Regions from separate parts of the Homo sapiens genome. Here region 2 is linked to region 1. Evidence: fine-mapped expression QTL. Tissue or cell type: whole blood. Region 1 holds a variant in brackets; the other region holds the start of a gene. All regions are shown on one strand. Distances are from middle to middle.

What was found. PIP is the estimated chance that this variant, and not a neighbour inherited with it, causes the effect.
Region 2: RANGRF starts here. The variant in region 1 is fine-mapped to the expression of RANGRF in whole blood (INTERVAL, PIP above 0.99).

The regions. Positions count from the first base shown.
Region 1 is chr17:8,381,635-8,389,735 of GRCh38, reverse strand. It overlaps RPL26 (ribosomal protein L26), which reads left to right and starts at 6,543. Exons shown (of 4, transcript NM_000987.5): 1 at 6,543-6,579; 2 at 7,421-7,593. The coding sequence starts at 7,426. RefSeq lists a silencer at 5,949-6,218 and enhancers at 5,650-6,367, 6,619-6,788, 6,368-7,085. The variant G/A (reference allele first, on the strand shown) is at 3,613.
Region 2 is chr17:8,284,759-8,292,859 of GRCh38, reverse strand. RANGRF (RAN guanine nucleotide release factor) reads right to left here and starts at 4,190. Exons shown (of 5, transcript NM_016492.5): 1 at 3,995-4,190; 2 at 3,788-3,904; 3 at 3,446-3,602; 4 at 3,272-3,357; 5 at 2,773-3,047. The coding sequence starts at 4,071. The coding sequence ends at 2,924. SLC25A35 (solute carrier family 25 member 35) reads left to right here. Exons shown (of 5, transcript NM_001320870.2): 2 at 272-337; 3 at 1,375-1,527; 4 at 1,884-2,018; 5 at 2,182-2,799. The coding sequence ends at 2,355. RefSeq lists enhancers at 3,468-3,537, 3,818-3,937, 4,298-4,527, 7,559-8,059, 8,060-8,101 and a silencer at 3,688-3,737.

The sequences.
Region 1 (8,101 bases):
GCACAATGTCTCACGCCTGTAATCCCAGCACTTTGGGAGGCCGAGGCGGGCGGATCACCTGAGGTCAGGAGTTCAAGACCAGCCTGGCCAACATGGTGAAACCCTGTCTCTACTAAAAATACAAAAATTAGTCGGGCTTGGTGGTACGTGCCCGTAATCCCAGCTAATAGGGAGGCTGAGGCAGGAGAATTGCTTGAACCCAGGAGGCGGAAGTTGCAGTGAGCTGAGATCGCACCGTTGCACTCCAGCCTGGGCGACAGAGCAAGACTCTGTCTCAAAAAAAAAGAAAAAGAAAGAAAGGGGGGGGAATAAGAATTTACATTCCTATTTGCTTACTTATGCATCAAAAAAGTGGGAATGCAGGGCACGGTGGTTCATGCCCAGCACTTTGGGAGGCCAAGGTGGGAGGATCACTTGAGGCCAGGAGTTCAAGACCAGCCTGGGCAACATAGTGAGACCCTATCTCTATTTTTTAAAAAAAATTGTAATTACCTTGTGGTGGCGCACCTCTGTAGCCCCAGCTACTCAGGGGGTTGAGGTGGGAGGGTCCCTTGAGCCCAGGAGGCTGCAGTGAGCTATGATTGCACCAGTGTACTCCAGCCTGAGCAACAGAGTAAGACCTTGATGACAGAAAGAAAAGAAAGACAAGAAGGGCAGAAGGGAGGGAGGGAGGGAGGGAGGGAGGAAGGAAGGAAGGAAGGAAGGAAGGAAGGAAGGAAGGAAGGAAGGAAGGAAGGAAGTTGGGAAGATGTACAAAACACTAATAATTCTGACTAGCCATGGAAAGGAATGAGAAAATGATGGAATGGGAAGGGGAGTTTTCACTTTACCTTTTTTTTTTTTTGAGACGGAGTCTTGCTCTGTCGCCCAGGCTGGAGTGCAGTGGCGCTATCTCGGCTCACTGCAAACTCCGCCTTCAGGGTTCACGCCATTCTCCTGCCTCAGCCTGCCGAGTGGCCGGGACTACAGGCACCCGCCACCAGGCCCAGCTAATTTTTTTGTATTTTTAGTAGAGACAGGATCTCACCGTGTTAGCCAGGATGGTCTTGATCTCCTGACCTTTTGATCCACCCACCTTGACCTCCCAAAGTGCTGGGATTACAGGCGTGAGCCACTGCGCCCGGCCTCACTTTACCTTAAATTTATCCCTTTTGATGTTTGAACCAAGTAAATTTAACATTCAAAAACTGAATTGAAAAATTATTAGAAGCTAAAGATATCTTCAGTGTACACGCCTGTTGCCAAGTAAGATTGCCCCAAGAACAGTCAAGAGCTGCCAAACCACCTGTCCTGTGGTTCGAGAGTGTCAACTACTGGTTTAGTGGGGCTGGTTTGTCTGGTTGGAGGTGTGACATCTTATGCTAACAGGCGCCCAAGGAGTAAGGTTTAAAAATTTAATGTTCTCAGTGTTCCTGAGTTCCTGAGCATTTCTCTGGGCCCCGTCATTGAATGTGCTTATTTTGATTCCCCCTTCTCTTCTTTTCCTCTTTGTTTTCAAATAAAATCTTTTGTTTTAAGCAACCATCATGCAGTGAGGGCACTACAGGACAATACCATTACACAGACAGAGATAGACAGATAGACAGATAGATAGATACATAGATAGATAGATAGATACATAGATAGTAGATAGATAGATAGATAGATAGATAGATAGATAGATAGATAGAGGGATGGATGCCTAGGGTTAAACTTAGTTGCTTTTCTCTTCCTCCCCTTGTCCAGAGGCACCCCAACCCCTGCAACACACACACACACACACACACACACACAGCCACTTCCCATCATAATAACCTTTAACAGTAATACACACTTACACAGTCTGAGCCTACCAGTCAAGCTTAAGGATCCATAGCATTGCCAGCAGGGCCCTGACGAGGGTTGCCAGGATCCTGGACAGGCATATTAGAGACCTCTGTGCCCCTCAGAAACAGTTCCATAACCTCTCCCCTCACTGAACCCTGTGTGACTCACAAGACCACTCAGCTGCTATCTCCTTTTGACCTCCTTGTCAGTATAAATGTCCTTTTTGGGTCCAGGTGCAGTGGCTCATGCCTGTAATCCCAGCACTTTGGGAGGCCGAGGCAAGCGGATCACGAGGTCAGGAGTTCGAGACTAGCCTGGCCAACATGGTGAAACCCTGTCTCTACTAAAAATACAAAAATTAGCCAGGCATGATGGCGTGCACCTGTAATCCCAGCTACTCAGGAGACAGAGGCAGGAGGATCGCTTGAACCCGGGAGGTGGAGGTTACAATGAGCCAAGATTGTGCCACTACACTTCAACCTGGGCAACAGAGTGAGACTCCATCTCAAAAAAAAAAAAGTCCTTTTTCAGGGACACACAATAAACAACTTTGCCTCACCCTTACAACTCCTCCTCCTACCGGGATAAATTAACTCCACAGCTCATTCTCAGCACAAACCACTTGCAGTTCCCAATATGCAGTGGGGTGCAGGCCTGGGCCTTTGCTTATGAGCCTCACTCCGCCTGAAACACACCCCCCCACCCCAACCCCCACTCCACCCCATCTACCTGGAAAACTCCTACCTAGCTTTTCAGAAACAGTATAGTTCCAGGGTTACCTCTGAAGACGTGCCCACTTCCTTGCTCAAGGGAACTGCCAGCTCCTACGCCGCCCCCCCATCCCCCACAAAGCATCCATCGGTGACACTTGATTATGCTTATCTGGTCACATCTGTCTCCTCCTTAACGAAGTGCTCCTTCCGGGGAGGCTAGATCTTATAGATCTTGGTATCTCCAGTGCCTGACACAGAATTTAGTAAACAGTAAGAGCTGGAGAAATATTTGGAGAATGAGTGAATGAATGAATAAACCTGACAGCTTGGTGTTTAGAAAAAAGTTAAGTCTAATCAACTCTGGGTGTGGAATCTAGCTATAATCCCTGCTTTGCTATGTCTGAAGGCTTCAAAATGATCCTAAAGGGACCTTTTTCAAATCCAGGAAGAGGAATGTGGGCAGCGAGGGAGAGAGAGTGCAGTCAGACTAGGCTGCAGGGTGAAGGCAAGACACCCAACAGACACGTTAAGAGAAAGGGGGCCGGGCACGGTGGCTCACGCCTGTAATCCCAGCACTTTGGGACGCCAAGGCGGGCGGATCACGAGGTCAGGAGATCGAGACCATCCTGGCTAACACGGTGAAACCCCGTCTCTACTAAAAATACAAAAAGAAATTAGCCGGGCATGGTGGCGGGAGCCTGTGGTCCCAGCTACTCGGGAGGCTGAGGCAGGAGAATGGCGTGAACCCGGGAGGCAGAGCTTGCAGTGAGCCGAGATAGCGCCACTGCACTCCAGCCTGGGTGACAGAGCCAGACTCCGTCTCAAAAAAAAAAAAAAGAGAGAAAGGGACGGCCAGGCGTGGTAGCTCACGCCTGTAATCCCGGCACTTTGGGAGGCCGAGGCAGGCAGATCACTTGAGGTCTGGAGTTCGAGACCATCCTGGCCAATGTGGTGAAACCCCATCTCTACCAAAAATAAAAAAATTAGCCAGCCGGGAGTAGTGGCTCATGCCTGTAATCTCAGCTACTCAGAAGGCTGAGGCAGGAGAATTGCTTGAACCCAGGAGGCAGAGGTTGCAGTGAGCAGATATTGC[G/A]CCACTGTACTCCAGCCTGGGTGACAGAGCGAGACTCCGCCTCAAAAAAAAAACAAAAAACAAAAAAAAACAGATAGGGACGTTCTAACTAGGCTACTGGCCATTTGCATCTGTATGGACAATTTGTACCCTGCAAATTTTCACATTGTATCAAGTGTCATGCTGTATGGATGGTGGGCTGAAGGTTTAATTTTTTTTTTTTTTGAGACAGAGTCTTGCTCTGTCTCCCAGGCTGAAGTGCAGTGGCATGATCTCCACTCACTGCAAGCTCCGCCTCCCAAGTTCATGCGATTCTCCTGCCTCAGCCTCCCGAGTAGCTGGGATTACAGGTGCACACCGCCACGCCCGGCTAATTTTTTTTTTTTTTAGTAGAGATGGGGTTTCGCCATGCTGGCCAGGCTGGTCTTAAACTTCTGGCCTTAACTTCTGACCTCAAGTCTGCCTGCCTCGGCCTCCCAAAGTGCTAGGATTACAGGCGTGAGCCACCATGCCCGGCCTGAAGGTTTCATTTTGAGACTCGGTATTGAACAGAGGGAGAAAGAAAGGAAGGCCTGGGAGGGTAGGGTGTCAGCAGAGGATGTGAGGGCTGAGGAAACAGAGAGGGCCTTGGTGGGAAGACAGGAAGACGATGGGGACACCCGAACAGGAAGGGAGTTGGGAAACTAGTAAGGACAGTAGGAAGAAAGAGAAGGAGTGACAACGTGAAGGCCAGAAAGGCAAGGCAAGGAAGGAAGGCAGGCACCTTCGGCAGCTCCCTAGGACTTCCAGACCCAAATCACACTCAGCTCAGCCCTAGAGCCCCTGGGCTCCCGTCTAAATGCCTCTCTTCAGCGGCAAGGACCTGGTTCCTGGAAAACACGAGTCACGCTGCTTCACACCTCCAAGCCTTCCTTCAAGCAATTCCTACTGCCTTGTGGAGCGAATGCTAACATTCTTCCAATTCCAGTCAATGCTGACCTCACCTCAGAAGTCTTCCCTGACCCCAGAGCTCCCTTCTGCTCCTGAATCACAGAGACAGCAAGGGCAGCTGGCTCAGCGAGCACTTTTCCTGTGGTCTCGTGGCTGTTGATTCCCTTGTCTATCTTTTCTTGTAGACAGTAAACTTCCTGAAGGCACAAACTTTGACCTATTTTGCATCGCCAGTGTCTAGTTTCAGGGCTGGCCCAGGAAAGAAGCCTCATAAATATTTGTTGAAAAGAGTCGCAGCAGAGGAATTCTTGCTGAATTTTTCAGTGATGAATAAAATCTAGGGCTACTTCCTTCACAGCATATTTAAGAACACAACTATTTTTAAATCATGAAAACGCATGTTCGTTGCTGACCATCCTCTGGGCAGTCCTGACTATGAGGTTCCCACAAATTGGGGCCATATACAGTTCCCAGAAGAGGCCGGGGAGCCAGCCTGCACGGGTTCTGCTGTGACTTATGGGTCCTGTATAACCTTGCACCAAGTTCCTCTCATTTCTCTGTGGCTGAGTTGCCCAATCTGTAAAATGGGGACAATAATACCAGCAACAACAGAGCCATTTTGTGGATTAAAAGAATTCATGATGTAAAGTGTAGAGAAGAGCGTCCCCACACTCAGAAGGCTCACTACGTCTTCGGTATTCTTGTGAAACGCCTGTCCTCTGTCACTGTGACACCCGTGTCATTCATTCAGCAGAAGCCGTTCAGCGCCGGTGCCTGCTGCACTGCCGCTGCCTCAGAAACCATTTGCAGGGGCCGGGCGCGGTGGCTCACGCCTGTAATCCCAGCACTTTGGGAGGCTGAGGCGGGCGGATTGCCTGAGGTCGGGAGTTCGAGACCAGCCTGGCCAACATGGTGAACCCTCGTCTCTACTAAAACTACAAAAATTAGCCGGGCGTGGTGGCGGGCGCCTGTAATCCCAGCTACTCAGGAGGCTGAGGCAGGAGAACCCGGGAGGCGGAGGTTGCAGTGAGTGGAGATCGTGCCAGTGCGCTCCAGCCTGAGCAACAAGAGCGAAACTGTCTCAAAAAGAAGAAAAAGACACACACACACACACACACACACACACACACACACACACACACACACACACACACACACACACACGAAGAAGAAGAAAAGAAACCATTTGCAGGGAGCGCACGGCTTCCGTCTGGTCCTGAACTGGACGCAAACAGGCCGAGCATTTAGAAACCCGCGCAGCTCCCCGCACCGAGAGGCTTCCTCTCGCCTGGCTCCTTCGAAGCGTGGTCTGGACCAGCACCTCCCACAGCACTGGGGGCGCCTTGGAAACGCGGCCTTGGACCTATTTCCGCGGGGGCAGGCGGCGATCGGTGGCCCTGGTCCTCGCAAGGCCCCTCACCACCCAGAACTGAATCTCTGGCGGGCCCTGCTGTGCGGTCAGCAGACGCCCAGGTGCAGGGGCGGTGGCCGGCGTCGCGGTGGAGCTCGTTAAAGTACCGGCACGCTGGCCGCGCCCACGCCACGGGCGGGAGGGGACGGTGAGTGCAGGGACCCAGGCGACCGGCCGGCCGGCGTCCCCGCGCCTCCTGGCGGCCAGAAGCAGGGCCTGCGCTTCCCCGGCTAAGGGGTGCCGGCCCCCGCCCCGGCACCTGGGAGTGAAGGTACCAGCGGGTCTCCTGGGCGGTCTCCTGGGGCCGCTCGTTCCTTCATCACCCCCAGGGGCAGTTGGACCCTGAGCAGCCTTAGCCAATAGCCCCGGGACTACCCTTCCCAGAGGATTCAGCGGCAGCACCCGGGTCTCGGAAGGGAGACACTAGGACCTGGAGGAGGGGAGTTTTGCAATCCCTCGCAGTTCCCCTCCTAGCCACTAGGTGACACTAGCCATAAATTTATTTCCCAGTTTACTCCCCTCGCTCAAACTCCGCGCCCCTCTCGCTCCGAGAGACATAGGTCTCGCGAGATCTTTGGTAAACTTACAGAACCGGAAGCAGCGTGTAGTTCTCTTCCCTTTTGCGGCCATCACCGAAGCGGGAGCGGGTAAGGATTCGGCGGGCAAGCGGGTGTAATCAGCAGCCATCCGTTCTTGGGCATGGTGGCTTCCGACCGCGGGGACCCCGAGAGTCTCTTGTCGGCCGAGTAGCAGCCAGGAAGGAGAGACTGGGATGGTTTTTTATCTGTTGCTTTCTTAAATCAAGGGCCGCCGGGCCGGAGATGGATGGAGGGACCGGGGATTTGGGAACTCGAAAACGAGCTGAGGGAAGGGAGCCTGTGGAAATAGACTGGAGTCTGGGTAGTGTCGTTTCCTAGAGAATGGTCTCGAAGTAACTTCTCGGTAAAGTCTTCACGGAATTTCCAGACCACACTTGCCCACTGGGAGGCTTTTAGGACCCGAGACGTGTGCAGGCTTTTCCAGGTTCGGGTTGGTGGGCCTTATTCATTTTGGCGGGGCTATACGTATTCACTCTTAAGCCTGTAGAAGATGAACGTTGATTGTACCTTCTAAAACGTGAGGTTATAGTTAAGAGAATTGCGTTGTCGGTCTGCTCAGCAGAGATGTAAGTCCAGTCTTGATTTCCTCAGGCACTACTTGAGGAGTTGGGAGAGTGTAACTAAAAGGTCTTATAACTAGGACAAGTGTTTTTGATGCAAAAGTCTTTAGTCCGTAAACATATACAGAAAACACCCGAATAAAACAAAAAATAAAAAGTTTCGAGCTTCGGTTGATAGGCCCTTCCGATCAAACAGTTTTTGTTGAAGTTGCACAACATGACACTGCCTATGATCATTCTAGACTATCAAGATAAAATCATTGCGGTTATTTGTTTGGAAGCTGGATGAGATTTTGGTCATTTAAGAGTCTTTTTAACTTTTTATTTAGCCAAAATGAAGTTTAATCCCTTTGTGACTTCCGACCGAAGCAAGAATCGCAAAAGGCATTTCAATGCACCTTCCCACATTCGAAGGAAGATTATGTCTTCCCCTCTTTCCAAAGAGCTGAGACAGAAGTACAACGTGCGATCCATGCCCATCCGAAAGGATGATGAAGTTCAGGTGTGTATCCCTACTTGTTCTCGTTGTCTTGATGGATATTTTACGCACTTAGCTTAGAAGAGAGATTGCATTCCTGAGAAAGATGCTTCTGAGACTCTTGCTCCCAAAGAGTGGCAAGATGAGTTGAGCCAGGGACCAAAAAACAGTAAGTAAGCTGCTTTTCAGTTTTTAATTGTATTATTTGGTGAAAATCTTTTTTTTTTTTTTTTTTGAGATGAAGTCTCGCTCTTGTCCCCCCCAGGCTGGAGTGCAGTGGTGCCATCTCAGCTCACTGCAACCTTCGCCTCCCGGGTTCAGGCGATTCTCCTGCCTCAGCCTCCCGAGTAGCTGGGATTACAAGCGCCCGCCACCACGGCTCGGCTAATTTTTGTGTTTTTAGTAGAGGCGGGGTTTCACCATGTTGGGCAGGGTGGTCTCGAACTCATGGCGTCAGGTGATCAGCCCGCCTCAGCCTCCCAAAGTGCTGGGATTACAGGCGTGAGCCACCGCGCCCGGCTGAGATGGGGTC
Region 2 (8,101 bases), 97 kb after region 1:
ACCACTCCACCCCCGACTGCTAGCCCCAAGGGAAAGAGGATATGAAGGGGTTGGGGTGTCTTGCAGTGCTGGGAGATCCACCCCCCTGGGGCTGGAGCCTAGAGACAGAGTCTTTTTGTTAACCAGTTTGTTAAGTAGGAAGAACAATAATCAGAGTAAGAGGCTATTCATTGCTGAACACCCTAGAGGAAGTGTGAGGGGGTGAGACATTTGGTTCTCAGGTAGGAGGATGGCCACTGGGGCACAGGCTATGATATTCTCTTGTTCCCAGGTGAAGACACACCTGCAGGCACAGGCAGCCTCAGAAATTGCTGTAGGGCACCAGTATAAGCATCAGGTGAGGGTTCCCAAGTCTGCCAAAGTCCCTGACCATCCTTTCTCTTTTCCCCTAGCTTTCTGCCTGCACCCAACAGATCCAATCCCAGCCACTGCTCTGCTCAACCCATCGGTTCTGTCCCATTTTGCCCCTGGAGTCTACCCAGACCCTCTTTACTCTTTTTTTAGATGGAGTCTCGCTCTGTTGCCCAGGCTGAAGTGCATTGGCACGATCTCGGCTCACTGCAACCTCCGCTTCCCGGGTTCAAGTGATTCTCCTGCCTCAGCCTCCCGAGTAGCTTGGGACTACAGGCGTGCACCACCACACCCAGCTAAATTTTTTTTGTTTTGTTTTGTTTTGTTGAGACAGAGTCTTGCTCTGTTGCCCAGGCTGGAGTGCAGTGGCGCAGTCTTGGCTCACTGCAACCTCCACCTCCCGGGTTCAAGTGATTCTCCTGCTGCAACCTCTTGAGTAGCTGGGATTACAGCCATGCGCCACCACGTCCAGCTAATTTTTGTAATTTTAGTAGAGATGGGGTTTCACCATGTTGGTCAGGCTGGTCTCGAACTCCTGAACTTGTGATCCGCCCGCCTCGGCCTCCCAAAGTGCTGGGATTACAGGCATGAGCCACTGCACCCGGCAATTTTTGTATTTTTAATAGAGATGGGGTTTCACCATGTTGGCCAAGCTGGTCTCAAACTCCTGACCTCAGGTGATCCACCCGCCTGGGCCTCCCAAAGTGCTAGGATTACAGGCGTGAGCCACCGTGCCTGATGCCTCTTTCCAATATGTACTCCAGTTCCTCTAATTTTCTGCCCCTGTTTCTCCTGACCAGTGAATGGCCTCACTTGCATACATCCCGCCCCAGTTCTTGGGTGCCCAGGGAAGGAACAATGGGGTGGCTAGACAACCAAGGGCCCACATTCTGGCTCTAAGCCCACATTGAACTGGTTGTCTGGACAAGAGATTCCTATTAAGGACCCATCCTTGGCAGTGTTAGGATGGCAGCCCCTGATGCTGGGCTGTCTGAACCCCACCCCCGGTCTTCCCCACACTAGGGCATGTTTCAGGCGCTAACCGAGATTGGCCAGAAACATGGTCTGGTGGGGTTATGGCGTGGGGCTCTGGGCGGCCTGCCCCGAGTTATCGTCGGTTCCTCCACCCAGCTGTGCACCTTCTCATCCACCAAGGACCTCCTGAGCCAGTGGGAGGTACTGCCTGGGAAATGGGTGGGTCTGTTTCGGGAAGGGGGGAAGGGGAGGGCAAGCTGCACTAGGCCCTGGAGGGGATGGTGCCCAACATTCACAGGTGAGGGAGTGGCAGGAGGGCTTGGAGGTCAACTCTTTAGACCCTTCCCACAGTTCTCTTGTCACTTCCTCCCAGAAGGGGTACCTGAGCCTTCAGGGTACCCTGGCCTTCCTCCTTCTCACTGTTTTTGCACTGTTATAACTGGTGCAGTGGAAGCTCCCCCAGTTACCAGCATCTGTGTCCCCAGGGCAGGGACTGTCCTGTCCTTGGGGTGTAATAGTTGGCTGGTTGACAACGCTCTTCCTCTCTACCCCCTTAGATCTTTCCTCCCCAGAGCTGGAAGTTGGCGCTGGTGGCTGCCATGATGAGTGGCATTGCAGTTGTCTTGGCCATGGCACCCTTTGATGTGGCCTGCACAAGGCTCTACAACCAGCCCACAGATGCACAGGGCAAGGTAAGGAAGTGCTCTGGGATGCAGGCGGGAAGCAGGGGATGGGGAAGGCAGATTGCGGGTGCAGGTGGGATAGCCTGAAATGCAGCCTGTAGAGGTGCTGCCCCTGGTGGGCTCTGACAAACTCCTTCTCTGTGCTCTCCCTCCCTCTCTGACACACTCTCAGGGCCTCATGTACCGGGGGATACTGGACGCTCTGCTGCAGACAGCTCGGACCGAGGGCATTTTTGGCATGTACAAGGGTATAGGTGCCTCCTACTTCCGCCTCGGCCCCCACACCATCCTCTCCCTCTTCTTCTGGGACCAGCTGCGCTCCCTCTACTACACAGACACTAAATAACAGCCGCTTTCCCAGTCTCCACCAAATGAGCACTCCTTGGCCACTTGTGCCTCCACCACTATGTCCTGGTGACTACTGATTAGGTGACCTTTCATCCATCCATGGGGGACAGCCAACCCCACTCCCCATCTGTTCTCAGGGTTGAATCACTACAAGAGATGAGTTTCCCTTCTTTCCTTGGGTGTTGCTTTAAACCTTCCCTACCCATTCCCTGGGTAACTCACACCCCTCTCTCAGGGCTGAACGAGTCATCCCAAAGTGTATTTCCTCCCACTCACCACTGCCACCCTTGAGTCCCTCCTGCTCCCATGCACAGTTTTAAACTCCTCCCTCCAAAACCAAAGGGAATCGAGAGACCCAATTCCCAGGCGTCTGGGACCCAGGTGTCCTGTTAGATTCAAAGGCACAGAGATTATATTGATTATAAAGCAAGTTTATTCTGAAGAGGGATTGTCTTATGTTTACGCACAGGGAAGAAATAAGAGGAAACCCTCTTTTCAACCTCTTTTCCCCCTCACAGAACCGAGTCCCCAAGTTCTCAGCAACATCATGCAGTGCTTCAGCGCCTTTACTGGGGACCAAAGATGTTAGGATCGTGAAGGGTCAGACTGGTCACCAGCTGTTCAAAGTCACCCAGGCTCCAGGGTGCAGGTGACAGATTTTCGGGGCCAAGAGATGACCTGTTGTCAGGGCTTGGGGTGGGGGAACAGATGGAGACAGAACATCATCCAGGCCTGAGGTTTGGAAATTGCCAATTCCTGTTCCCCAGAGGACCTGGGTATCAGTTACCCCAAACCTCTGGCCCACTCCTGCTTCCTTGGAGGATCCCACCAGTGAGTCTCCCTGTTCTGTCCCTCCCAGCCCGATTCTCCTGGGAACCCAGTCATGAGATACCCGCCCGTTCCTTCCTCCTTACGGGGGCTGATTGAAGGTAAGCAAGAGATCAGTCTGGTACTGGGGCAGCCTCAGCAAGGCCTGATGAAGTGTCACGTCCTTTGCTACCTAAGGGGATCAGAGTCAGGATGCTTACCTGGATCTCTGCGTCCCCGCTACCGCCCTTCCAGGACATTACACACTCTCGGGCCCTCACCTGCTGGTTTTCCTTAGCTATCTGCTGCTTGCCAGAGAGGACCCAGGCTTCTTGACAGCGGCCCCTCAGGGCCAGGTTCTCCAAACTGAGAGGCTGAACAGACTCCACATGGACAGCCCTAGCCCCCTGCACGCCACCAACATCCTCAAAGTGGTACCTGGAGTAGGGAAGCGGGGTCAGGAAGGGACATCTCTGGTCGCCTCCCCGGGAGCATCTTTAAGTTGCAGGCCTGGCTCCCGGCCCGTGCGTGGTCTCACCGCCCGGATTAACCGTCGGCCGCGGGCCCCGCCCACTGGTCCGACCCCGCCCCTGCCATTGGCCAGCCGGGGGCCATTCCCTCACCGCGCAGCCGCTTCGCCCCGTACGTGGGCCTGCAGCTCGAGAAGTTCCACTATCAGGCTCTGGTCCGTCACGGGATGGCAGAAAACTTCTTGATTGTCCGGGACCGGTCGGAGGTCGCTGGAGTGAGGCGAGGCAGACCCTGGTTGACCCCGGTCTCTTCCCACAACCCACCCAGTCAGCCGCCCCTGGGCGCCCCGGCCTTCTCACCTTACGTCAATGGCCCCCATGGGGAGGATGGCGGAAAAGGCGCCCCCGAACAGCGGGCAGTCTCTCGTGGGCTCCATGGGTCTGAGGCTGGGTTATGGGCATTAGAAAGGTTTAAAAGAAGTCCACATTGGGTCACGTGGCATCGGCTCCCTGGGTTTCGCAGCTGCCACCGCCACCCGGGTCTGGCTTAGCTCCCGGATCCTTTAAGATTTGGCTCCGCCCTGCGCTCTCGTTGGCCAATCGGCGCCAAGACCCTGGGGGCGGGGGTCAGCGGCTTTGCTCCGGAAGCCGCGCTCTTAGGAGTGCGCCTGGCGGGACGGTGGGGTCTGCCTTGGGGTTGGACTTAGGGTTAGGGTCTATGTCGCCCCCGGTGGTCACGAGCATGCTCCCGCCAGCCTCCTCTTGATTGATTGATTGATTGATTGATTGACAGGTCTCGCTGTGTCGCCCAGGCTGTAATGCAGTGGCGCGATCACCGCTCACTGCAGTCTCCACCTCCAGGACTCAAGTGATACTCCTGCCTCAGCCTCTTGAGTGGCTCCTGCTCCCGCCACCACGCCCGGCTAAATTTTTAATTACTTGTAGAAATGGGGCGGGGTGGGGAGTGTCTCCCAATCTTGCCCAGGCTGGCCTCAAACTCCTGGACTCAAGCGATCCTCCCGCCTCGGCTCCCTAAGTGCTGGAATTACAGGCGAGAGCCACAGCGCCTGGCCTCCTCGTCCTTTTCAAGTGGTCACACCTTCCAAGAAGGTCGCCTGAGACCCTCCTGAGGGGCAGGTGCTCGTCAAAGGGGCCCACGTCTAGGTAGGGTCTCTTGAGTCAGGAAAGCATAGTTTCACGGTGTTCTGGGCCTCTGAAAGAAGAATGGGCTGCCACCCAGACCGCTAATTCATAGATCTGCTGCTGGGAATTAGGGGAACAATGCGTCCAGGTTAGGATTCAGGTCTCACATCTTCCTGAAAGTGAGAGCCAACCTGGGTATTAGAAATCTAATTCCTCTCAAATATTTGCCTTGGGAATGCTCCCGGGCAGGTGCAACCCCACCCCCAGCTCCACACACCTGGACAGAAGCACAGATTAAACCCTCTTTTGTTTGTCTTTTACAGATTTGTTGTGTTCTTTAAGTTTTAACTTCACTATATCATTTCAGTTCATTTCTCTATTCATCTTTGATCCTCAGCACCCGGCACGGTGTTTAGAGCATAACAGACCTGATATATATTGGGTTTTTTTGTTTTGTTTTGTTTTTGAGATGGAGTTTCACTCTTGTTGCCCAGGCTGGAGTGCAATGGCATGATCTTGGCTCACTGCAACCTCCGCCTCCTGGGTTCAAGCTGTTCTCCTGCCCCAACCTCCCAAGTAGCTGGATTACAGGCATGCACCACCACACCCAGCTAATTTTGTATTTTTAGTAGAGATGGAGTTTCTCCATGTTGGTCAGGTGAGTCTCGAACTTCCGACCTCAGATGATCCGCCTGCCTTGGCCTCCCAAAGTGCTGGGATTATTACAGGCGTGAGCCAGCGTGCCCAGCCCAGACCTAATATATATTGTTAAGTGATTGAATAAACTCAATGCAAATGTCTGGAACCCAGGAGATCACCCATACCCTCATGGATTCTAGATGTCACCTACTTCCCAGCCAAGAATTGGGCAAGAGGACTCTGATCTTGAGGCCATTCCACAGGGTTCCAAGTGCTGACCATACCTCTGGACCCTAATGACTTAGTGAAATGAAGCCAAAGGGTACATATTTATTGGTCTCTTACCTTGCCAGGCCCTAATGTGAAGGGCTGGAGATACAAAGACATTTAGGACACAGCCCCCGATGCCTCACTGAAGGAACAGTGGAGCACACTTTGAGTCTTTTTTTGTTTTTTTTTTTGAGAGGCGGTCTCACTGTTGCCAAGACTAGACTGTAGTGGTGCAGTCGTAGCTCACTGCAGCCTCAACCTTGTGGGCTCAAGCCATCCTCCTGCCTCAGCCTCCTGAGTAGCTGGGACTACAGGCATGCACCACCATGCTCCGGTAATTTTTGTGTGTGTGTGTGTGTTTTATTTTAGGGATGGAGTCTCACTGTGTTGCCCAGGCTGGTCTCGGACTTCTGGTCTCAAGTGATCCTCCTGCCTTGGCCTCCCAAAGTGATGGGATTATAGGCATGCGCCACCATGCCTGGCCCATACTTTGAGTCTTAAAGTTTGACTCAGAATTCAGTAGGACATCCTAGGGGTATTCTAGCTGGGGGAACATCAGGAGCAAAAACTTGGAGATGAGAGGGCATATTTTGGAGAAAGCAAGTGTATCTGTTTGGCAAGGGAGGGTAGGATGGGAATGGGTGGCAGGGAGCTGCAAACACAGTCAGGTGTGCAGGGTTTTTGTAGCGCACACTAAGGAGCTTGACTCCTCATTTCTTACTATAGCCATCAGACTCCTCTCTGAGTCTCATTTCCTCATCTCTAAAATGCTGTTGGGGGGCCAGGCGCCGTGGCTCACACCTGTAATCCCAGCACTTTGGGAGGCCCAGGTGGGTGGATCACCTGAGATCAGGAGTTCTAGACCAGCCTGGCCAACATGGTCAAACCCTGTCTCTACTAAACATACAAAAAAAAAAAAAAACAAAGGAAGAAATCAGATATGGATGTAGTTGAGTCTGACCTATTTCTGGGTAAAGAGAGTAGAATAAGTTTGCTGTATGAGGAATTTGACAGAGCGGGGGCGTTACAGGCTCTAGAGGGAAAGAAGGACCCCAGCCATGGGAAACAAAAGGAGCCAGGTCAGAGGAGTCCACCCCATGATGCTTCTCTGGGATAATGAGTGACAGACCTCTCTGTCCCTCTCTCCTCCTTGCTGCCAGCCTGCTCTCCAGCTCCATTCCCCACCAGGGGCAATACTGGCTCTGGCTGCTTTGGGAGCAGTCAAGCAGGTAGAGTCCTTGGAAAGGGACCTACAGGGACATAGAAGTTAACAGGGTGCCTGCACCAGGCATAAGGGGGTGTGGAGGCCTGTTACATGGGCCCAGAGGAGGTCACGCCAGGTCAGGAAGGCTGAGAAAAAAGCCCCCCCAACTTCCTCATTTTGGGTGTCTGGCCTGTCTCATGTTCTCCCATGAGCCCTACGCAGCTGGGGACCCCTGGCCCTCCACAATTCTGTGGGCTCTTGGGGGCTGCTCAGCCAGACCTCCTCTGAATGAATGGGGTGGAAGGCCACCCTCACTTGGCAAATCCCCACGCTTGGCTCCACTTCCCCTTCTCCCTTCACCTTTTTTTTTGTGTGCCTGTCAATTCTGCTGGCCCTGCCACCTGTCGACTCCCTCAAGTGTTCAAATTCCAACTTCCCAAGGGACAGGATCCAACTGGGTCGATTAGTTGTTATTCAATCTGAAAGTACCTATTTGGCCGGCTCTCCTGCCTGGCCACTCCTCAGGCCACCACCCAAACACAAGGGAGATCTCTGGTCCAGCTGGCTGTGGCTAGGATGATAAGTATCAGGGGACAAATCTCAGTAGAGAGAAGGCCAGCAGCCACTTTTCTCAGGCGAATGTGAGGGTATGGCTCGCTGTCAGCCCACTGGTTGCAAGTAGGCCTGCAACTGATTGATTCTCTACACCTGGGACATTCCCTTATCCAATGCCCTGCATGCAGTTGATGCAGTTGTTTGCTATGGGGACAAGAGTCCCAGAGACTCTCCCCTTTAGGGCACCAAGAGATGGACTCAGATCAGAGAGACAACACCACACCCAAAGTCAAGCATTCCTTTGAGTTAGGACAATGAATATTTCTATTAAGCAGGGGTTTTCGTCCTTTTTTCTACTGTGGACTGCTTTGGCAGTTTTGTGAAGCCCATGATCCCCTATTCGGTGTAATGTTATTATTTTTATTTTTTCTGTGTTTTTGAGACAGGGTCTTATTCTGTCACCCAGGCTGGAGTGCAGTGGCATGATAACAGCTCACTGCAGCCTCAACCTCCTGGGCTTAAGCCATCCTCCCACCTTGGACTCTCAAAGAGATTACAGGCATGGGCCAGGTGCGGTGGCTCACGCCTGTAATCCTAGCACTTTGAGAGGCCTAGGTGGGCAGATTGCTTGAGCTCAGGAGTTTGAGACCAGCCTG